3 separate regions of the Homo sapiens genome follow, and all the other regions are linked to region 1. Evidence: fine-mapped expression QTL. A gene starts in region 1. Each other region holds a variant in brackets. All regions are shown on one strand. Distances are from middle to middle.

Region 1 (8,184 bases):
ACCATGCGGTTGGCCGGGCGCAGGGGCTCACGCCTGTAATCCTAGCACTTTGGGAGGCCGAGGTGGGCGGATCATGAAATCAAGAGATTGAGACCATCTTGGCCAACATGGTGAAACCCTGTCTCTACTAAAAACACAAAAAATTAGCTGGGCATTGTGGCGCGCGCCTGTAGTCCCAGCTACTCGGAGGCTGAGGTAGGAGAATTGCTTGAACCTGGGAGGCGGAGGTTGCAGTGAGCCGAGATGGCGCCACTGCACTCCAGCCTGGCGACAGAGGGAGACTCCGTCTCAAAAAACAAACAACAACAACAACAACAACAACAAAACCCCAAAAGACCATGCAGTTTACGGATCATTATGCTGTTCCCTCATTTCTTTTTTGTTATTAATGGAATTTAGCAAAGAACATCTTCTGTACTATTACTTATTTTTCAAGAATAGGGCCGGGCGCGGTGGCTCACGCCTGTTATCCTAGCACTTTGGGACACCTAGGCAGGCGGATCACCTGAGGTCAAGAGTTTGAGACCAGCCTGGCCAACATGGTGAAACCCCACCTCTACTAAAAATACAAACATTAGCTGGGGGTGGTGGCAGGTGCCTATAATCCCAGCTACTCCGGAGGCTGAGGCAGGAGAATCACGTGAACTTGGAAGGCAGAGGTTGCAATGAGCCAAGGTCGCACCACTGCACTCCAGCCTGGGTGACAGAGTGAGACTCCAACTCAAAAAATAAAATAAAATAAAATAAAATAAAATAAAATAAAAATGGTGGCTGAATGAATCTCATAGTAATATTTTGATATGTAAAGAATGGTCCTGCTGGGCACAGTGGCTCACGCCTGTAATCCCAGCACTTTGGGAGGCCGAGGAGGGTGGATCACAAGGTCAGGAGTTCGAGACCAGCCTGACCAGCATGGGGAAACCCCCGTCTCTACTAAAAAAAAAAAAAAAAATACAAAAATTAGCCAGGTGTGGTGGTGGGTGCCTGTAATCCCAGCTACTCAGGAGGCTGCGGCAGGAGAATCACTTGAACCCAGGAGGTGGAGGTTGCAGTGAGCCGAGATTGCACCACTGCACTCCAGCCTGGGCAACAGAGTGAGACTCCGTCTAAAAAAAAAAAAAGAATGGTTCTGTTTTCATGTCCAATGCTATTTTCCTTTCCTCAAAGACTTTTACACCTGAATGTATATAATTGATTTTACCTAAGATTCCCATCCCTTAATTTTCCGTCTTATCTTTCCCAAGTTCCGGCTATTAATTTGGTAATTCCCTACATGTTGTCATTATAATGTATATATATCCCCCTTTGGGGACATAAACATATCCCCAAGGGAAGAGAAACACATAAACTTTTTTGTTTTTTTAAACTTTCTAACCCAATCGTCTCTGAAATCTGAGCCTGGACTAGATGAGGCCACTCACTTAAGAGAGGCCTTCAAAATGACTTTCCTATTATGAGTATTCTGTTTTTGAGTGCATTTGTTTTTTGAGGTAGGGTCTTACTCTGTTGCCCAGGCTGGAGTGCAATGGCATAATCATGGCTCACTGCAGCCTCAACCTCCTGGGCTCCAGTGATCCTCCCACCTTGGTCTCCCGAAGTGTGGGGATTACAGGTGTTAGCCACCACGCTCTGCCCCTGTTCTATGTTTTCATTTATTTTACTTCATTTTAAACATTTAGTTACTTTTAAATAAATGTTTACAGTCAATGTCAATATTTAAGATGGCAAGGAAAACAATAAAATGAACATCCATGTACCTGCTTAAAAAAATCATTACCAGTACATTGATTTTCTTTTTATTTTTGTGATAGTCTCAGTATGCTGCCCAGGATGGAATGCAGTGGCACTGGAATGCAGTGGTGTGATCACGGCTCACTGCAACCTTGACCTCCACAGGCTCAGGTGATCCTATCTCAGCCTCCTGAGTAGCTGGGCCTATAGGTGCAGGCCACCACTCCTGGCTAATGTTTTGTAGATACGGGGTTTTGCCATGTTGCCCAGGCTGGTTTCAAACTCCTGGGCTCAAGTGACTCCTCTGCCTCGGCCTCCCAAAGTGCTAGGATTACAGGCATGAGTCACCATGCCCAGCCCTTGAATGGTTTTAGTGTTATTCTTATCTGAATATTTGTTTTAAACAACAGGATTTAACCTTACAAGAAAGCCTAAATACAAACCTCTGCACGTTAACCCTATATACATTTTTCTATGCTGTCACTTACATTTTTTAATTTACTGCTTTCAACTTCAAAACAAGCAGTCTCCCCCAGGTCTCCCATGACGTTCTGAAATCCTAACTTCTATTACCTAATACAAGGCTACAAATTATGTTAGTTGGGTGGTTGGGAACAAAGCGTGCTGTAAAAATAAGGCAAATGTGTATGTGTACATTAGTTTGCTAAGTTTTTTGCCACTGTCTGCCCTCTTAAATTGTGGTAGCAGCTATTGTTCACATTGATTTCTATATATTTGTAGTACAAGGAAGCATTTCTAAAGGACCTTGTTCATTGCTTTGCACAAAATGGCCACTTAATATTTGTTGAATGAATTGCTGGCACTATCTCTGGTATTTTAATTTTTATTTATTTATGTATTTATTTTTGATATGGAGTCTCGCTCTGTCACCCAGGCTGAAGTGCAGTGGCGTGATCTCGGCTCACTGCAACCTCCCGTGTTCAAGCGATTCTCTTGCCTCAGCCTCCCTAATTGCTGGGACCACAGGCATGCGCCACCAGGCCCGGCTAATTTTTTTGTATTTTTTTTTAGTACAGACGGGGTTTCACCATGTTGGCCAGGCTGGTCTCAAACTCCTGACCTCAAATGATCCGCCCACCTCGGCCTCCCAAAGTGTTGGAATTACAGGCGTGAGCCACTGTGCCCGGCCTATCTGTGGTATTTTTAGTGTGATGTCTAGAACTTCATATACTTTTTTGGATTACTTTTAATTGTAGGGCTGTATCCAAACTGATGAAATGTTCTCGCAGGTAACTATCTGGAGAAGTGAGTTCACTGATGTATTAAAAGAAATGACTGGCATGGAATAAGGATTAAAATATATTAATCCAAAACATTTAAAATTGCATTAATGTTATAATAGCCTAAAGCAAAACTAACGAATCACATAAAAAATCCCCCACGCTATTGTCCTTAGTAGTTTACATTGTGCTAGATACTTTCGCATGTATATGCATACAACTTCTATTCTGTTTTTAAACTTTGCATTACATATACATTCTTCCATATTATATGATCTTCATAAAAATAGTTACATGGCTGCATAAAAAACCATGCGGTTCCTGGACTATTATGCTATTCCCTCATTCCCCTTTTGTTATTAATGGAATATAGCAAAGAACATCTTCTGTACGATTATTTGTCAAGAATAGGGCCGGTGCGGTGGCTCAGGTCTGTAATCCCAGCACTTTGGGAGGCCGAGGCGGGCTGATCGCTTGAGGTCAGGAGTTCGTGACCAGCCTGGGCAACATGGGAAAACCTAAACGTCTCTACTAAACATGTCTCTACTAAAAATACAAAAATTAGTGGGGCGTAGTGGTGCACACTGTGGTCTCAGCTACTCCAGAGGCTCAGGTGGGAGGATCACCTGAGCCCCGGAAGTTGAGACTGCAGTGAGCCGTGTTCGCACCACTGCACTCCAGCCTGGGCGACAGAGGGAGACCCTGTCTAAAAACAAAAAAATAAAAAATAAATTTCTAGCAGTACAGTTACAATGTCAAAGGATAAGGTACACATTTTTTAAAAACTTTTCTCTTTCTCCTCCTGAGATAACGAAATACAGTAGCGTATGAACAACTCTTCATACATTACTCTCCAAGGTTTATCTTGTTAATCCTTTAAGACGTATCATCTCCCCATCCTTGGCTGCACCTGAAAAGAGCGGGAGTCGGCAGGTAACCTGATCTCCTCCACCAGGTGAGTCCCGGATGGAGGTGTCAACTACAAGACCAGGAGCAGAGCATTCCTGGGGTTTTGCTGGAACCATCGGCGTGGGAATGCTTTCTCTTCCCTCGCCCGAAAGACGCCAAGTTCCCGGCAGGCAGCGGACTCGGTTCTAACCTTCCTCGCCCCAGCCTCTCGGAGCGCCCTGCACGCAGTGGGCGTCTAATAAAATGCAGTTGGCCCTGCTTGGACAAAAGTTCTCCCTTAAGTGGCCCGGACAGTAAACCCCTCCAGGTGCCACAGAGCTGCCGCGCCCGCCGCCGCTTTGCTCCCTGCCTGCTCCCTCCCAGCGTTCCGCGTGGGACCCTCGGCGGCAGCTCACACCCTCCCTGACTGCCGGTGCCCGCCAGGGCACCCTGCGCGCGCCCGCCGGCCCCGCCCCGGCCCCGCCCCGCCCCGCCGGCCCCGCCTCCCGTCTCCTCCCCGCCCCCCGGAGCCGACGAGTGGCGGCGGCGGCCCCAGGTCCCGGGTCCCTCAGACAAGAGGGCGGGTGGAGGAGGAAGCGGCCGAGCCCAGAGTTCTGCTCCGGCGCCCCCGAGCACCGCCCGCTTCAGCCGACCAGCCCCGTCGGCTACTGGGCCTCGCCGAGACGAGAGGAGGGAAAGGCCTCGGCGGCCGCGAGGAGGCGGCGGGGGCGCGGGCGGAGGCGGCGCGGGCGGCCGCGGCTGCCGCTTTGTTGTGCGGCCCGGGCCGAGGAAGGAGAAGTGGGAGGAGGGGGGAGCTCGGCGTCCCGCTCCCTCCGCGGCTCATGGCGACGACTCTCGGCACATCCGGGACCCTCCGGCCGTGGCGGCCGAGGCGCCGGCTGCTCGGGCCCCAGCCCCGGCCGCTGTGGTGACTCCGCCGCGCCTCGCCGTCGCCCCCGTGCCGCCCGCCGCCCCCGCCGCCCCCGCCGCCGGGGACATGTCTAACCCCGGAGGCCGGAGGAACGGGCCCGTCAAGCTGCGCCTGACAGGTGAGGGGGGGCGGCGGGCCGGGCTGGGCAGCCGCGGGGTGGGCGAGCTGGCGGGGGGTGCCTGTGGCCTTGGGAAGGGCCAGGGTCGCGATCAATGATGAGTTGGGGGTCGGAGGAATGGGAAGGCCTAGTTCAGGGAGAGTAATTGGAAAACCACTTGCTCTGGTTTGGACATTGTTTAAAAAGCCGAGGATGACTCGGGGCGGGGGGTGGTGTTTTGTGGAGGGGAGAATACACCGGTTCGCATCGCAGGCGGATTTCAGGTCGGAAAGTCTTGGTCAAGGAGCCAGACGCTGCCTCCCGGGGCTCGGGGAACAGCCCCTGGGCTACCGCCCAGGTGAGATCGTGAAGGGGATGAAGAGCTCCCGTGGCGAGGATTATTGAATCCGGTTGCTGACTGCGCGCAGTAAACACTCCTTAAAGATGGAGCGCTTAACGGGAGGGTGTGCGTGTGTGTTCCCGGGTTGTTACCTTGCACACACCCAGTTATGCCCGCATGAAAAACCTTTACTCCCCGCCGCCGGCCACCGCTGCCCGGGCCACACACCTTAAACTCATGTCTCTGAGGTGAGGAGACAGGTTGACTTTTCCGGTGTGCCTGTCTGATCCGACGGCTTGGGCTCATTGTACACTGTGTTTTGGAAGTGTCTGATTGTAGGGTGGCATGTTTGGGGTTGTTCCTTTTAGGCCGCAGAACTTGTGTCTAACTTCTAACGCCAGACCTGCTTTAAAAACACACTTTTTTGGGGGGGGTGCATTGCTAAGTATGTGCTCATACAAACTTTCGAGCAAACTTTCTGTTACTCTCCCCACCCTCCCCATTCCTTTTTCGAAATGGAAAAGAATGTCCGGAGGGGTTGCCAGATAGAAGACTACACTTACAAAGTGTTTATGATTCCAGGTGCATGAAATCTTTAACATTACAGGTACGTTTTGCTTACAGTGCCATTTTTGGTATTCTTACATGGACATGCCACCCCCGTTTTAGGAGAACTTTTATTTGGTTTGTAAAGGAATTGGAATCACGGCGTTATCCTACCTTCACCATTTACCCCTGATAAATTGTCCACGTTTGTATTCGGGTGAGTGGTGAGAAAGATAATTTTCCGTAGAGGATTTGTGTGTGCGTGCACGTGTACGGATAAACTGTAATTATGTTTGCCCACACTAGACTTTGAGATTTATTTGGACTAATTTTGTAGTTAAATGCCTGTGTGTCACATCCCAGTCCACTGGCTGAACTTGCTGGATGAAAACTTGCAGTGAATTTGGTATTTGAGAATTTAGCTTGAATGTATGTTGGCTGCAATTTAAATAATATATTACTTTCATGGCAGTTTTCCTTTCCCTAGGGAAAATTGCAGGGAATCATTAACTGAGTGATTCTTAATGGAAAACCTGGATTGGAGGATACTTGTATTCCACCCCCTCCCCCCTCATTCAGTGTCCTTACATTGGGAGGAGTCAGTGGAAACCTTTATAGGGGATCTTTGTTGCTTTAGAGTTTATCTGTTGCTGTTGCTGTCTGTAGTCAGTGATCGTGGAAAGAACATGTGATCCCAGGTGTGCAGAAAGCATCAGAAATAGGCTGTTTCCATTTACCCTCCTCTGGGCTATGTAGAGAAAATGAGGGAAAAAATTGGGTTTTTGATTTTCTGCAGATAAGGTTAGTTGAGGTTTTTAGTATGACTTAATAGATCTTAAAGTGTTTATCTGTGGTTTCCGTACTGCCTATGATACATTATAAGAATTTATAATTAAAGTTTATTAAGAGGAAAGATTATGCTTATATTTTAGGGGAAGGGGGAATATTGAACTACATTTATAGTGATTTTGTTTCAGGTTTTTCTGAGGAATTTTAAATACCCTGTGTCCTCTTAATAGTAAAAACAGTTTGAGGTACTCTGAGTTTCTTACAACTATTTGTCTCTGAATAGTTTTCTCTTAAAATTTGACAAATATTAAAAACATTGTCCTTCCTTCTTTGGTTACAGTGGAGTCTCTTCTGTTTTGCCAGGAAAGTTAACATATTTTTTCTTCCATTTTTGTTCATCATTTATAAATTAGATGGTATAGATTTTAGCAAATAGATCTCAAGAGCTGGATTCAATTAGCAGCTTTTTAGGACATAAACATTAAAGGGTTAGATGGAAAAGATTGTTTTGACTGACTGGATAAATGACAGGGCTGTGTTTGATGTGCGTCCAGGAATTGGTCTGGAGCTGGTGCCCAACTTCTCAGTCCATCTTGAGAAGCCAAATAAAATATTTAACCTAGGCCTCATTTTGTTTAAAAAAAAAAAAAAAAAAAAAGTTGATTCTTTGTGAAGACCTTAAGAAATGTTTGGCATACCTTTAGACTAAGTGTTTAACAGTTCATTTAGATCTGGGTTGCCTAATAGAGGAAAAAAAATCACTTAAAAAAAGACAGATCCCACAGTGAATTTATATTTGGTTTACAATACACTTGGGCTATAAGGTGTTTTAAAATTATTGTTCTTTGCTTTAAGTTAATACCATATTAGTATTTTAAATTTATAGAGTACCTTTGATTTCAAGATGCTGTATAAACTTTAGTTACTTGATAATAACTTTATTGTGGAATTGCCCCTTTGCTGAAAGGTATAAACATTTCTTACATGGTGATGCACACACTCACACACACACACTCACACACTCATACACACTCTCTCTGAAGAAGAGGAAATATTTAAGCCATGAGATCTCTGCCCACAATTGATATTAAACCTTTCCACATATTATTCTTAAAACCACAATCAGTGAACTGTTTGGTATTTGTCAATGCTAAGAAGGTGGGGCTAATTTAATAATTTGATCCCAAATTTTAGATTCCTCAGGCAGTTGGGGGTTAGAATCTGATTTCATCCATCAAGCTACTTCTGTTCTTTATGACACATTAACATATGATCATTGAAATGGGCTGTATGGTAACACTATCAACTTCAACTACTGTTTCTATAACATTGATTACAAAATGTATAATGTCTATATCATTATACTTATATCTGATACAGGCTTTTCTTTCAATGGTTTGGATAGAAAAATATTCTTTACAGTAAAAACTTTGGGATAATTTTTTATACCATTATTGTTTCTGAAAACCAAAGGCTGGAAAAAGCAGTTTAGTGTAATTTCTAATATTTTAAATTCTTAGGTATGGAGAAGCAGAATAAGATTACTCCTCCAGAACATTTGTTTCAGACCTTTTTATACATTTAATGTTTTTGTATGCTGCTTCTCATGTTATTAATTTCA
Region 2 (8,184 bases), 32 kb before region 1:
GCTCTGTTATCAAATATTTAAGGTGTTCCTGATATGGATTGATAAATGTAGTGGAGAAAGGGAGTGAAATAGGGTGCCTACGCCTAGGACGTTTCGTTCATTTTTTAAAAGAAGCTATCATTGAATGTTGCCAGTGGGATTTAATGTATGATAAGGGTGGTATAAATCAATGGGACTGATAGGTAATTTAAAAAACAGTGTGGAGACAACTGAGTGGCCATCTGGGGGGAATATTGGATACGTATCTTTCACTGGGACGAATTCCAAATGTACCCAATATTTAGATGTGAAAAAAAAAGAAAAACTATGAAATACTTGAAAAATCCATTGGAGAGTTTTTTTTATTATTTCATAAATGAAAATTTTGTCCAACTATAAAACTAAGTTCAGAATCCATAAAATAAAAAATGGATATAAAAATCTATTTTCTTCATGGCAGTAACCATTATAAGTTAAGTCAAAAGACAAGCTGGGAACAGTATTTCTTTTTTTTTTTTTTTTAAGATGGAGTTTCGCTCTTGTTGCCTAGGCTGGAGTGCAATGGCGCATTCTCGACTCACTGCAACTCCCCACCTCCCGGGTTCAAGTGATTCTCCTGCCTCAGTCTCCTGAATAGCTAGGATTACAGGTGCATGCCACCACGCCCAGCTAATTTTTTTAGTTTTAGTAGAGACAGGGTTTCACCATGTTGGCCAGGCTGGTCTCGAACTCCTAACCTCAAGTGATCCACCCGCCTTGGCCTCCCAAAGTGCTGGGATTACAGGCATGAGCCACCGCACCCGTCCTGGGAACAGTATTTTCAATTCTGAATACAGAAAGGACTAGTTTCCCTAATATATAAAGAATTCTTACAAATTGATATGGAAACAAGCCAATAATTTAATGGAAAAATGGGCAAATACTAGGTATAGACAATTCACAGAAAAATAAACAAACTAAGCTATGATACAATGTTTACTCTTTCGTAGTAAGAGAAATTCACATTAAAATGACTGAAAAGTACCAGTCTTTAGATCTCAGACTGGCAAATTTCAAAAAGGTGGCCAGGTGCAGTGGCTCACACCTGTAATCCCAGCACTTTGGGAGGCCAAGGTGGGTGGATACTTGAGCTCAGGAGTTCAAGACCAGCCTGGGAAACAAGTAAGACCTTCATCTGTACAAAAAAAAAAAAAAAATTAGTGGGGCATGGTAGCATGCCTGCAGTTCCAACCACTTGGGAGGCTGAGGTGGGAGGATTGCTTGAGCCCAGGAGTTTGAGGCTGCAGTGAGGTATGATCACAACACTGCACTCTAGCCTGGGCAACAGAGTGAGACCCTGTCTCAAAACAAACAAACAAAAAACATCAAAAAGGCAGTTTACCTTGGTGGTTATGAGGCTGAACTCTGGCCTAGAGAACGTGAGTCTGAATCCCAGCTCCACCTGCTATGAGTTAGGTGAGTTACTAAATCTCTATGGAGACCAAATTAACTGGTGTTATCTACCCAAATTCAAAGTATACTACAGATGCATTTAATTCATTTTGTCATGTTCAGTGATGCCTATTAAGGATATCTGTCGCATTGTTGATTGGTTAGCAAAAGACTGGAAACAACCTACTAAGGGATTGTTTAAGTAAGTTATGATGCATCCAAACAATTTGCAGAAGCTGACTGTGCACAGAAATGGAATAAGAAAGCAACATGCAACGTTTTACAAATTCAAAATAGAGACTGCCAATGGTGGTACTGATCTTCAAGAAGATCCCCTTGAGTGGTTCTTTGTGGTTAGGTAGACGCAAGGCAAGGGTTACCCTATGTTCTGGGGAAGGGTGAGGCTACACCACCCATTATCCTTGGAGCATACCACACAAAAGTTGTTGGGGAGAGGGTGGGAAAATCTGCCCTTATGAGGCTTAATGGTATTAGAGTCTCTCTGGTAGACTGAGCTGATCCTCACTGAGGTCATCTGAAGGACATAGGGGCCTGGAGGAGAGACTCACCAGGGTGCACCTGGGAGGGACTGAGGCTGCAACTCCTGGGACCTGCCATTGTGTGGAAATGAGCAGGAGTGCCATCCTGTGCCCAAGTCACTAACAGTCTCTTCCCAACTGTGACACTGTGGGAGACCAACCCAGCAACCATCCCCTAGTTGGGCCCCTTTGGAGATGGACCAGTTTTCTCTTTGCAGAAGCCTCTTGGGATAAAAGGAAAATGTCCCGTGAGTCATATTTCAGTTATTAAGAAGGTGGGCCCTTATTTTTGTACCTTTTACTGGAGAAGAAGGAAAAAACAGTGATGCTTAAATAATATCATGCTTAGAAACTTCCTACCTAGTACCTTCTACGTGTATGTTATTTATTTGAGTCAGATTCTGAGAAATGGGATAATGGAACTTAAAAATATAGACATTTTAGGCTGGGTGTGGTGGCTCATGCCTGTAATCCCAGCACTTTGGAAGGCTGAGGTGGGCGGAACACGAGGTCAAGAGATGGAGACCATCCTGGCCAACATGGTGAAAAATTAGCTGGGTGTGGTGGCACGTGCCTGTAGTCCCAGCTACTTGGGAGGCTGAGGCAGGAGAATTGCTTGAACTCAGGAGGTGGAGGTTGCAGTGAGCCAAGATGGCACCATTGCACTCCAGCCTAGCGACAGAGCAAGACTCCATCTCAAAAAAAATAAAAATTAAAAATTTTTTTAAAAATAGACATTTTATGTGTGACTTTTTCAAAGAGTTGCATCACATTAATATATTTTCAGAAATGTAAAAGATGAAGAGTTCTTCCGTATGAAAACTTGTACATGAGGCCAGGCGTGGTGACTCACATCTGTAATCCCAGCACTTTGGGAGGCTGAGGCAGGTATATCACTTGAGGTCAGGAATTCAAGACCAGCCTGGCCAACATGGTGAAACCCTGTCTCTACTAAAAATACAAAAACTAGACAGGTGTGGTCGTGGGCCCCTGTAATCCCAGCTACTCGGGAGGCTGAGGTAGGAGAATCACTTGAACCTGGAAGGCAGAGGTTGCAGTGAGCCGAGATGGCATCACTGCACTCCAGCCTGGATGACACAGTAGATCATGTCTCAAAAATTTTTTTTATCTACATAGCAGAATAGGCACAAAAAATGATCTAAAGTATCTTTTTTAAATTTAATTTTTTTTTTTTTTTTGACAAGAGTCTTGCTCTTGTCGACCAGGCTGGAGTGCAATGATGCGACCTCAGCACACTGCAACCTCTGCCTTCCCGGGTTCAAGCAATTCTCCTGCCCCAGCTTCCCTAGTAGCTGGGATTACAGGTACCTGCCACCATGTCCAGCTAATTTTTGTATTTTTAGTAGAGATAGGGTTTCATCATGTTGGCCAGGCTGGTCTCAAACTCCAGACCTCAAGTGATCTGCCTGCCTCAGCCTCCCAAAGTGCTGGGATTACAGGTGTGAGCCACTACGCCTGGCCCTGGGCATCTTTTTAAACTGCAGGCACTGATTCAGTAGGTCTGAGCTGGGGGCTGAGACCTAGTCCTTGTCTAATGGGCTTCCTCTGAAGCCAGGCTGCAATTCTGCACCACACTTTGAGGAGCAGGTTCAAGACCAATGTATCTTCTGCCATTTCAAACTACTCAAAAATCTGTTCTCCTATCTCAAGGTCTGTCTCAGTATAATTCCAATTACAGCCCCACCACACTGGTCCTGGCTACTTCCTGTAGAACCACATGGAACAAATTTAATTGACCTGAACTTGATAGCTTATCAGGTATGTTAAGGCAGCTAGCTGTTAGTGTCCCCTGAGTTTTCTTTTCTTTTTCTTTTTTCTTTTTCTTTTTTTTTTTTTTGAGACAGCATCTTGCTCTGTCACCCAGGCGGGAGTGCAATGGCGCAATCTTGGCTCCCAGGTTCAAGCGATTCTTGTGCCTCAGCCTCCCTAGTAGCTGGGATTACAGGCGTGCACCTCCATGATCCTGGCTAATTTTTGTATTTTTTAGTAGAGATGGGGTTTCGCCATGTTGGCCAGGGTGGTCTCAAACTCCCAGCCTCAAGCAATCTGCCCACCAAAGCCTCCCAAAGTGCTGGGATTACAGGCGTGAGCCACCGCGCCCCGCCCCCTGAGTTTTCTTTCTCAGCTTCTCCAAACATT[G/C]CTTGCGGTACATGACTCGAAGTCCCTAAGCACTTTAATTCCTCTCCTCCTTGTCCCATTTACAGTAAAGCACCCAGAACTGAAAGTATTGCTTATGGCGTAGGCTGCTGGGCTGCTGGCAGCAGGTCACCATCATGTCCTTGATCCTCAGTGCAATTCTTTGGCCAAGAGCCCATGTCCCTAGAATGACTCACACCGAGCCCATTGTCAACTAAAAGCCTGAAGTCATTTCCACAGAGGCTGTTCTTGACTCACACCTCCCTCAACTTCTACTTTAGCAATTGATTCTTTGGATCCAACTAACCCTAGGAACCACTGTTAAGCTCCAGTTTTCTCACTTGAATTTGGCCTGGGGTTGTTCCTGACGACATCAGAGAGAGGTGCTCTGACCACAGGAACGGGGCAGTGTTGAGTTAGGGAACCCCTCTACCATTAGGACCAGTATGAAGGTGTCATTGCTACTTGCAAATCACGTCTTTATCTGCTTCATTTAGGGATCCTGCTATTGACAATTACACATATTTTTTGTTTGTTTGGTTGGTTTTTGTTTTGTTTTTTGAGATGGAGTCTTGCTCTGTCGCCCAGACTGGAGTGCAGTGGTGCGATCTCGGCTCACTGCAACATCCACCTCCCAGGTTCAAGCGATTCTCCTGTCTCAGCCTCCCGAGTAGCTGGGATTACAGGTGCCCGCCACCACACCCGCCACCACACCCGGCTAATTTTTGTATTTTTAGTAGAGACGGGATTTCACCATCTTGGCCAGGCTGGTCTTGAACTCCTGACCTCGTGATCCACCCACCTCAGCCTCCCAAAGTGCTAGGATTACAGGCGTGAGCCACCACACTCAGCCGACAATTAGACATCTTTAAAAGAAAGACTCTATAGCAGTTGATGATAACGCAGAAGTTTTTAGTCTTAGTTTATTGAAGTGACCCTTCTAACTCTGTAATCACTTATCTTCCTCTTCCCATTCATCTAATATGGGGTGATATAATATGTGATATTACCAATGTAATTCTAATATATACTTTTTGTGGAAAATTCAAAAAACATCAAAGCTAAATGTGAAAATTTGCCGGGCAAGGTGGCTCACCCCTGTAATTCCAGCACTTTGGGAGGCCAAGGCAGGCAGATCACTTGAGGCCAGGAGTTCAAGACCAACCTGGCCAACATGGCAAAACCTTTCTCTACTAAAAATACAAAACTTAGCCTGGCATGGTGGTGCACACCTGTAGTCCCAGCTAGAGGAGGCTGAGGCAGGAGAATCACTTGAACCCAGGAGGCAGAGGTTGCAGTGAGCCAAGATTGTGCCATTGCACTCCAGCCTGGTCAACAGAGCGAGACACTGTCTCAAAAAACAAACAAACAAACAAACAAACAAAAAGAAAGTTGAAAATCTCAGATGATGCCATCATCTACTGGTAACCACTGTTGACATTTGGTATATTTATTTTATTTCTTTTCTATTTGCATATTTTTTCTTGCTAAAATTCAGTATCTTACCTGTTTTAACAATAGATGTTCATTATAGAAAAAAGTAGAAAATGCAAATATGCCAAAGAAGAAATAGAAATCCCCATGGTCCCATTATGTAGAAACAACCTCTAGTTACATTTTGATGTGTTTCTTTTAAGATGTTTAAATTGGTTGGGTGCAGTGGCTCATGCCTGTAATCCCAGCACTTTGGGAGGCCGAGGCAGGTGGATCACCTGAGGTCAGGAGACCAGCCTGACAAATATGGTGAAACGCCATCTCTACTAAAAATACAAAAATTAGCTGGGCATGGTGGTGGGTGCTTATAATCCCAGGTACTTGGGAGAAGCTGAGGTAGGAGAATTGCTTGAACCTAGGAGACAGAGGTTGCAGGGAGCCGAGATCACACCACTGTACTCTAGCTTGGGCGACAGAGTGAGACTCTGTCTCCAAAAAAAAGTTGAAATCTGCATATATAATATATTTTTCTGTTAAGAGATGAATTTATACAGTAATACTATATCATAAAAGTTTTTTTCCACTTAACAGCATGTTGGAAGCATGTTTTAGAGAACATTTAGTGAACTGACTCTATGTTTTTACATTGTGAAGATTTACTCTGTAAGACTATTATTTCGCCTCTATTTAGAGAAAGTTGCTTGTTTTGGCAATCTCTCTTTTGTTATGAGCATTCACATGAGCCAAGTTCCACTTTCAGAAATGCTATTGGCCAAGCTTCATGCTGTTCATGAATTCATACATAAAGACTATAAATTTCAGCCAGGGGTAATGGCTCATGCCGATAATAGCTACTCAGGAGGTTGAGGAAGGAGGATCGTTTGAGGCTAGGAATTAGAGACCAGCCTGGGTAACAGCTAGATTCCCTCTGTCTTCTCCTCTAAAAATAAATAAATAAATAAATTAGCATGGTGGCATATGCCTGTAATCCTAGATACTAGGAAGCCTGGGGCAGGGAGTATGGCTTGAACCCAGGAGATCGAGGCTGCAGTGAGCTATGATTATGCAATTGCACCCCAGCCTTGGCAATAGAGCAAGAACCCACTCTCTGTTTTTTAAAAAAGGCTGTAAATTTCTGAATGAGTTCATAAGATGAACTACAACTTACTTGTGCCCACTGCCTTTTCTTAGAAATTAACTCCAAAGGCCAGGCGCAGTGGCTCATGCCTGTAATCCCAGCACTTTGGGAGGCCGAGGCGGGTGGATCACCTGAGGTCAGGAGTTCGAGACCAGCCTGGCCAACATGATAAAACCCCATATCTACTAAAAATACAAAAATTAGCCTGGCATGGTGGTGCATGCCTGTAATTGCAGCTACTCAGGAGGCTGAGGCAGGAGAATTGCTTGAACCCGGGAGGCAGAGGTTTCAGTGAGCCAAAATGGCGATACTTCAGCCCAGGCGACCGAGCAAAACTCTGAATCAAAAAAAAAAAAAAGAAAGAAAGAAAAGAAATTAACTCCAAAATGTAAATGCCTACATACAGTATTTAAACTGTGTTTTATTTTGTTTTGATTTTTTGAGATAGGGTCTTACTCCTGGTGGCGCGATTTCAGCTCACTGCAGGCTTCACTTCCTGAGCTCTAGTGATCTCCCACCTCCACCTCCTGGAGTAGCTGGGACCACAGGTGTGCACCACCACACTCGGCTAATTTTCTATATTTTTCGTAGAGATAGGATTTCACCATGTTGCCTTGGCCTCCCAAAGTGCTGGGATTACAGGCATGAGCCACCACGCCCAGCCTTTAAACTGTTAGTGATAGCAGTGAATGAGTTCAAATGAATTCAGAAAAAAGACATATAGATTAGACCACAGTGTTTTTGTTTTTGTTTTTGTTTTTGTTTTTGTTTTGAGACAGAGTCTCACTCTGTCGCCCAGGCTGGAATGCAGTGACCAAGATCTCAGCTTACTGCAACCTCCACCTCCTGGGTTCAAGCAAGTCTCTGCCTCAGCCTCCTGAGTAGCTGGAATTACGGGTGCCCACCACCACGCCCGGCTAATTTTTGTATTTTTAGTAAAGACAGTGTTTCACCATCTTGGCCAGGCTGGTCTTGAGCTCCTGACCTCGTGATCTGCCCACCTCGGCCTCCCAAAGTGCAGAGATCACAGGAGTGCACCACTGTGCCCGGCCAGCGCCACATTTTCTACTATCCTGGTAAAGTAAATATTTGTGTTAAACCCCACCAAACTTGAAATGAATGGAATGTTCTTAATTTTCAAGGTGCTATCTTTAAAGATCTTCTCCAGAATGACCTGTGATATCTTTATAGGGGCCAGGGGGTTTCCCCTCAATATCAGAATTTCTTTACTTACAAGATGATAATCTTGTAAGTAATTATAGAATCTTGTAAGTAATTATAAGATTATAATCTTGCAAGTAATTATGGAATCTTGTAAGATTATCATCTTGTAAGTAATTATAGAATCTTGTAAGTAATTGTAAGATTATAATCTTATGAGATTATAATCTTGTAAGTAAAGAAATTCTGATATCGAGGGGAAACTCCCTGGCCCCTATAAAGATATCACAGGTCATTCTGGAGAAGACCTTTAAAGATAGCACCTTGAAAATTAAGAACATTCCA
Region 3 (8,184 bases), 26 kb after region 1:
GACTCCCTGGTTCAGATGATTCTCCTGCCTCAGCCTTCTGAGTAGCTGGGATCACAGGCACCCGCCACCATGCCCAGCTAATTTTTGTATTTTTAGTACAGACGGGGTTTCACCATGTTGGCCAGGATGGTCTTGGTCTCCTGACCTCGTGATCTGCCTGCCTTGGCCTCCCAAAGTGCTGGGATTATAGGTGTGAGCCACTGTGCCCGGCCTCATTGTTTTTCTTTAACCCGTCTATAATCCATTCTCCACAGTATAGCTTCATGAATTAAAAAAGAAAAAAGTAAATTGGATGATTTTACTTCCTTGCTTTAACCCTCCAGTGTCTTTCCATTATACTTTGAATGAAATAGACACTATTTATCCAAGACCTTATATAATCTGCCCCTGTTGACTGGGCTTTCCTTTGCTCATTATGCTTTAGTCACGTGGATTTTCTTTTAATTTCTTGAAAAGGCCAATCTCTTCCACCTCAGAGTCTTTGTATATATTCTTTCTTTTGAAGGAATTTTCTTTCTCTTGTTTCTTCTTATTTTTCTGTGTCAGTTGTATTATCTCAAAGAGTTCCTAAGTAGTCTGTCTAAAGTAGTCTCTACTCTCATTATGCTACCTCCATAATATCCTGTTAACTTCTGAGAACTGAACACAATTTCTTTTAATATTCATTTATTTACCTGTTTACTGTCTTTTTAAAAATAAACTTTTGATTTTAGAATACTTTTAGATGTATAGAAAAACCTGTAAGTCTAAAGATAAGAAAAATCTGTAAATCTAAAGATCTGTAAATCTGAAGATAGTATAGAATTCCTGTATTTCCATAACCAGTTTTCCCTATTAACTAAACTAATCTTACATTAGTATGGTATATTTGTTATAATTAATGAACCAATATTGGTACACTTTTATTAACTAAAATCCATATTTATTCCGATTAGTTTTTACCTAATGCTGCTCATTGTTTTTTAATCCCTATTAGATGGGGAGCACCCACAGGGCAGGGATTGTGTGTGTGTTTCATTTACCTAATGTGATGCCAAACAGTAACGGGTACTTGGGAAGTATTTCTTGAGTGACTACTGGAAAGAAGTCTTAGAGTTTATAGTCTGACTTAAACTTCCCCATTTTAGGTGAGAAAATTGCTTAGGGAGGCATATGTGTCTTCTCCAAGTCCCATGGGTAATTCATGGTATAGCTGGTATTAGACACCACATCTTATGATATCCAGTTGCTATTATCTCTTTGAAACTAATGAACCTTAATTTTCTTTTTTTTTTGAGTCAGAGTCTCGCTCTGTCGCCCAGACTGGAGTGCAGTGGTGCGATCTCAATTTACTGCAACCTCCGCCTCCCGGGTTCAAGTGATTCTCCTGCCTCAGCCTCCCAAGTAGCTGGGATTACAGATGTGCACCACCAGGCTTGGCTAATTTTTGTATTTTTAGTAGAGACAGGGTTTTCCCATGTTGGTCAGGCCGGTCTGGAACTCCTGACCTCAAGTGATCCACTCACCTCAGCCTCCCAAAGTGCTGGGATTACAGGTGTGACTCACCACGCCCAGCCTGAAGCTTAATTTTCAAGACCCAATCTGAGGGTCTGGGAGGGACCCTAGCAATGTGTTCACTTGGTTAATTTTTAAAAAGTTTTATTGGTATATAATATATGAATGAGAAAATTCATAAATATTATAAGTGTGTAGTTTAAGATTTTTCACAAACTGAACACACATATATAACTAGCATCCAGATCAAGAAACAGAACATTGCCAGTATGTGGTCACATATCTTTGAAGAATTTGCAAATGTAAGTTATCTAAACCACAGTCAGCTAAAATTGCCGTCTTTTTACCTGACTTCCCCTTTGTTACACTCTTCCTTATGTTGGGTGGCATTGGAATGGCTGTGGGCACTTTTGGGGTCTGGCTATGGGGAAATTGACTTGGAGAGATATTTAGTTGGATTTTAGCAGGATATGTTTACATGGTTCATAGCCTCTTTGTGTATAGTCAAGGTATTACTAGCCATCCCAGTATGGGAATGGTTTCTAGGAATACTCTATGTCTGTTGTGCTAACTCATGGGGCATTGTGACATAAACGTGCATAGCTAGAGGTTGTCTAGCAATATGAATGTGTCCTATGGCATCTGGCACCCAAAGTGTGTGGTTAGTAGAGGAAAAACAAGGTTTGATGTCAAAAGCCAGTCTGGGGAAAATTCTTTAAGATTTTGTAGCTTTAATGAAAGAGACTTGTTAAGAATTTTCCCAGGTTTGACCATAGTCCTAAAAGTTGATATAACATTATTTATTGATGATGTTCCTGTGCTAAAAGAAAACTTTTCTAAGCCATCAATAACAACAGGCTGAGCGTGGTGGCTTACGCCTGTAATCCCAGCACTTTGGGAGGCTGAGGCAGGCAGATCACTTGAGGTCAGGAGTTTGAGACCAGCCTGCCCAACATGACGAAACACTGTCTCTAATAAAAATACAAAAATTGGTCAGGCGCAGTGGCTCATGCCTGTAATCCCAGCACTTTGAGAAACTGAGGTGAGTGGATCACTTGAGGTCAGGAGTTCAAGACCAGCCTGGCCACCATGGTGAAACCCCATCTCTATTAGAAATACAAAAATTAGTCGGGCTTGGTGGCACATGCCTGTAATCCTAGCTACTTGGGAGGCTGAGGTAGGAGAATCACTTGAACCCAGGAGGTGGAGGTTGCAGTGAGCCGCCAAGATCGTGCCACTGCACTCCAGCCTGGGCAACAGAGTGAGACTCTGTCAAAAAAAAAAAAAAAAAAAAGAAAAAGGAAAAAAAAAAAACTCATGGGAAAGTGTGGTACTGGTGTAAGGATTGAGATATAGATCAATGGAATAGAATAGAAAGTCCAGAAAGAAAATTATACATTTGTGGTCAGTTGATTTTTTTTTTTTTTTTTTTTGACTAGGGCGCCAAAACCATTCAATGGGGAAAGATTAGTCTTTTTAAAAAATGGCATTGGGACCGGGTTCTGTGGCTCACACCTGTAATCCCAGCACTTTGGAAGGCCAAGGTGGGTGGATCATTTGAAGTCAGTAGTTTGAGACCAGCACGGTCCACATGGTGAAACCCTGTCTCTACTAAAAATACAAAAATTAGCCAGGCATGGTGGCACACGACTGTAGTCTCAGCTACTGGGGAGGCAGAGGTGGGAGAATCGCCTGAACCTGGGAGGCAGCAGTTACAGTGAGCCAAGATCGCACTATTACACTCCAGCCTGGGCAACAGAATGAGACTCCGTCTCAAGAAAATAATAATAATAATAATGTGTTGGACCAACTGGATTTCCACATGCAAAAGAATGAAGTTGAACCTCTACCTCATGCCATATATAAAAATTAACTCAAAGTGGATTAAAGACTAAATGTAACAATGCAAGCCATAAGACTCTTAGATGGATGGCTGGGTGTGGTGGCTCACACCTGTAATCCTGGCACTTTGGGAGGTCGAGACGAGTGGTTGTTTGAGGCCAGGAGTTCGGGACCAGTCTGGCCAACATGATGAAACCCCGTCTCTACTAAAAATACAAAAATTAGCCAGGAATGGTGGCAGGCACCTGTAATCTCACTTACTTGGGAGGCTGAGGCAAGAGAATCGCTTGAACCTGGGAGGCGGAGATTGTAGTGAGCCGAGACCGTGCCACTGCACTCCAGCCTGGGTGACAGAGCAAGACTGTGTCTCAAAAAAAAAAAAAAATCTCTTAGATAGAAACACAAGACTTTGGATTGGATTCTGTCAATTTAAACAAAAATCTTATTTATTTATTTTTGTAAAGATGAGGTCTCACTCTGTTGCCCAGACTGGTCTCGAACTCCTGGGCTCAAGAGATCCTCTTGTCTCGGCCTGCCAAAGTGACAGGATTACAGGTATTAGCCACTGCACCCAGCCTAGACTCTATCAAAATTAAAAACGTTTGTGTCCAAAAGGACACTAATAAGAAAGCTAAAAGATAACTCATAGAATGAGAGAAAATATTTATAAATTATACCTGATAAGGGTCTAGTATACAGAATATATAAAGAACTCTTTTTTTTTTTTTCTTTTTTTGAGGCGGAGTCTTGCTCTGTCGCCTAGGCAGGAGTGCAGCAGCATGATCTTAGCTCACTGCAACCTCCACCTCCTGGGTTCAAGTGATTCTTCTGCCTCAGCCTCCTGAGTAGCTGGGACTACAGGTGCACACCACCATGCCCAGCTAATTTTTTTTTTTTTTTTTTTTTTTTTTTGAGGCAGAGTCTGGCCCTGATGTCCAGGCTGAGTGCAGTGGCATGCAATCTCGTCTCACTCAACCTCCACCTCCTGGGTTCAAGCGATTCTCCTGCCTCAGCCTCCCGCGTAGCCGGGATTACAGGTGTGTGCCACCACGTCCAGCTAATGTTTATATTTTTAGTAGAGATGGAGTTTTGCCATGTTGGCCAGGCTGGTCTTGAACTCCTGATCTCAGGTGATCCACCAACCTCAGCCTCCCAAAGTGCTGGGATTACAGGTGTGAGCCAC[C/T]GCACCCGGCCTTAAGGAACTCTTAAAACTCAACAATAAAAGGACAAACAATCCAGTTAAAAAATGGGCAGCTAGCCAGATGTGTTGGCACATGCCTATAGTCTCAGCTACTTGAGAGGCTGAGGTGGGAGGATCCCCTGAGAACAGCCTGGGCAGCATAGTGAGACCACATTTCAAAAAAAAGGGCAAAGGGTTTGAATAGACAGTTCTCCAGAGAAGATATATCAGTGGCCAAAAAGCACATGAAAAGATGCCCAATATCATGAATCATTAGGGAAATGAAAATGAAAACCACAATGGGATACTACTTCACGACCACTAGAAGGGCTATAATAATGGGAAAATAACAAATGTTAGCAAAGATGTGGAGAAATTGGAACCCTCATACATTGTTGGTGGGAATGTAAAGTAGTTCAACCACTCTGCTAAACAGTTTGTGGCAGTTTTTCAGAAAAATTAAACATAGTTACTACATGACTCAGCAATTCCATTCCTAGGTACATACATAAGAGAACTGAAAACATATGTTCACACAAAATCTTGTGCATAGTAGCATTATTCATAACAGCCAAAATAGTTGGGTGGAAACAACTCAGATGTCTGTCAACTGAATGGATAAACAAAATATGGCATATCTATACAATGGAATATTATTCAGCCATAAAAGGGAATAAAGTGCTGATGATGTATGCTATAGTATGGATGAGCTCAAAAAATTAGGTTGATTGAAAGAAGCCAGACACAAAAAGCCATATTGTTTAATTCCACTTGGCAAATCCATAGACAGAAGGTAGATTTTCAGGTTGCTAGGGGATGGGGGAGGGAAGATGGGGAGTGACTGCTAACAGGTAGTATGGGGGTTGTTTTGGGGTGATGGAAATGTTCTGGAATTAGATATTGGTGATGGTTGTACAGCACTGTGACTATGCTAAAAATTATTGAATTATACAGTTTAACTTGGTGATTTTCATGTTATGTGACTTTTATTATTTATTTATTTATTTTGAGACCTAGTCTCGCTCTGTCGCCCAGGCCAGAGTGCAGTGGTGTGATCTCGGCTCACCGCAACCTCCACCTCCCTGGTTCAAGCAATTCTCGTGCCTCAGCCTCCCAAGTACCTGGGATTACAGCTGTGCACCACCACGCCCAGCTAATTTTTGTATTTTTAATAGAGATGGAATTTCACCATGTTGGCCAGGCTGGTCATGAACTTCTGGCCTCAAGCGATCCACTCACCCTGGCCTCCCAAAGTGCTGAGATTACAGGTGTGAGCCACCATGCCTGGCCTTATGTGACTTTTATCTGGAAACAAATGGGAAAAAAACTTGTCATAACAAATATTATTATTATTATTATTAGGTTATGATGTTTGTGGCTTTTGCCAGTTTGTTAAAATTTATGATTTATTTTCTCATTCTAAATTGAATATTGGCTGTCAATACCCAATTCTGTGCTCTTAAAATGGAGCCTCCAAACTCTGTAAACTCCAGGCTTCATGAAATCTGAATGCACCCAGGATATGTATTAGCATCAGATAAAAATCATTCAAGGACTGTGTCTTCTTTTTAAGCTTGAATTGAACAAATATGTTTATTTCTGCTCTGTCCCCAAGCCCCATTCACAGTGAGTAAGAGAATGAAAACAGCATAAATCTGCAAGAGCAGAAAGAACAGGAGACAGTAAATAAGTGGTATAAAAAAACTTCAGGGAAATGGAAGGTGGTTGGAGTAGATTAATTAGCTGAGAAAGTGGAATATAAAATATCTACAGAGGCGGATACCAATTCCTTGCATGATTCTAGCCAGTTCATATCACCTATCTCTAGGAAGACTCAGGAATTGAAGGTGCCAGGTATCTCTGAGGGTGCAAGCAAGATGTGAAGCTGAAAGCAGGAAATGGTTTAAAGTCAGTGGAAAGTTCTATACATGCCTCATCCTAGGCAAGCAGATGAGTGTTCTTACCCAACCTCACAAAAAAGTCAAAGATTTATCTTGTGGAGAAAGCCAGACTGCCTATAGACCCAGGAATACCTGGTGCTGTGGAAGGTGGTAAAGAAATGCCCAGCTGAAAATGAGGGGATTTGCCACATCTTTAAATGGTGAAACTCCCAGCCCCCTTGTATTACTTAGCTCCAAGAATGCTAGCAGCCAGTTATTCTCTTTTTGTTTTTGTTTTTTGTTTTGAAACAGTCTCACTGTCGCCCAGGCTGGAGTGCAGTGGTGGGATCTCGGCTCACTGCAACCTCCAGCTTCTGGGTTCAAGCTATTTTTGTGCCTCAGCCTCCCAAGTAGCTGGGATTACAGGCGCGCACCACCACACCTGGCTAATTTTTGTATTTTAGTAGAGACAGTTTCGCCATGTTGGCCATGCTGGTCTCAAGCTCCTGACCTCAGGTGATCTGCCCACCTCGGCCTCCTAAAGTGTTGGGATGACAGGCATGAGCCACCACACTCAGCCTATATAAATTTTATGTTTTTACAGTAACTTTGTATGGAGAGTATAAAACTCTTCACAACATTTTTTTGGGGGGTGGGGGGCTAATCTCTTGGTAGTTGCCTGTGTTTATAAGTTACCTCTAAAGTTTAGAATTGAAAGTTGTTTGGTGTTTTCAGCATATTATTGAAGGCTCAGAATTGTAGGGACCAGAATTATTACTGATTCTCTAATGCCTCTAATCAACTGAAGTTGTAAGATAATTCATGTTATGTGAAAAACAAACCAATGATGCTAGTTGAATCCTGGAATTTAAACTTGCAACAAAGTGAATATGACATATTTAATGGTTATTCTTACTATATTGTATTGTAAATATATGGTAAAGGGATTTATGTATTTATTTTTACCCAGCTAATAAACATTTTCACCTGGGATGGAATGATACCGGTGTGGGTATGGAGGGTTTAAGTGGAAAGGGAGTGTTCTTTCTCTGTTTTTATACTCTGCTTTCTCTTTGAAGTTGTTCTTTCCTCTATTTGATTTTGAGGGACCCTGATTGACTCCCAGTACCTGGATATAGAAGAATCTATAGGTAGAGATCTGTTTTTTTGTTTTGTTTTGTTTTTGAAACAGGGTCTTGCTTTGTCACCCAGGATGGAGTACAGTGATATGATCATGGCTCACTGCAGCCTCGGCCTCCTGGGCTCAAGCCATCCTCCCACTTCAGCCTCCCAAGTAGCTGGGACTATAGGTGCGTGCCACCACGCCTGGCTAATTTTTGTGTTTTTATAGAGACAGGGTCTCCTCAGGTTGCCCAGGCTGGCCTCGAACTTCTGGGCTCAAGCTATCTCCCTGCCTTGGCCTCCCAAAGTGCTGAGATTACAGACTTGAGCCACCACATGCAGCCTCTACCTTCTGTTATAACAATAAATACTGTGTATCCCTATTTGCAAAGTTTTAAGAAACTCTTTACCTAAGTCATCTCACTTAATCCTCAAAATAATACTCTGAAGTAGGCGAGTACAAATACTATCATATTGTCATCAGAAAACACTGATCTCAGAGAGGTTAAGTCATTTGTCCAAGGGCTCACAGCCCTTCTCTTAAGCGTGGGAAGCTGGAATTTGAAACCAGATGTGTTTTATTCCTGTCTCTAAGCTCTGTGTTACACTGTCTTCCTAAATTGTTTAGGTCTCTTGACAGAAGTCTGGAGGCCTTTGAACAGTTTT

What was found. PIP is the estimated chance that this variant, and not a neighbour inherited with it, causes the effect. A credible set is the group of variants that fine-mapping cannot tell apart.
Region 2: its variant is the best candidate, but not a certain one, in a credible set for the expression of SMURF2 in whole blood (TOPMed, PIP 0.56).
Region 3: its variant is the best candidate, but not a certain one, in a credible set for the expression of SMURF2 in whole blood (TOPMed, PIP 0.82).

What each region holds. Positions count from the first base shown.
Region 1 is chr17:64,658,554-64,666,737 of GRCh38, reverse strand. SMURF2 (SMAD specific E3 ubiquitin protein ligase 2) reads left to right here and starts at 4,431. Exons shown (of 19, transcript NM_022739.4): 1 at 4,431-4,909. The coding sequence starts at 4,858. RefSeq lists an enhancer at 3,579-4,137 and silencers at 4,288-4,687, 4,738-4,937.
Region 2 is chr17:64,690,521-64,698,704 of GRCh38, reverse strand. No RefSeq gene overlaps it. Among named protein-coding and RNA genes, the nearest start is that of SMURF2, 32 kb to the right of the region's middle. The variant G/C (reference allele first, on the strand shown) is at 4,110.
Region 3 is chr17:64,632,667-64,640,850 of GRCh38, reverse strand. All of the region lies in intron 1 of SMURF2 (SMAD specific E3 ubiquitin protein ligase 2), which reads left to right. Among named protein-coding and RNA genes, the nearest start is that of SMURF2, 26 kb to the left of the region's middle. The variant C/T (reference allele first, on the strand shown) is at 4,520.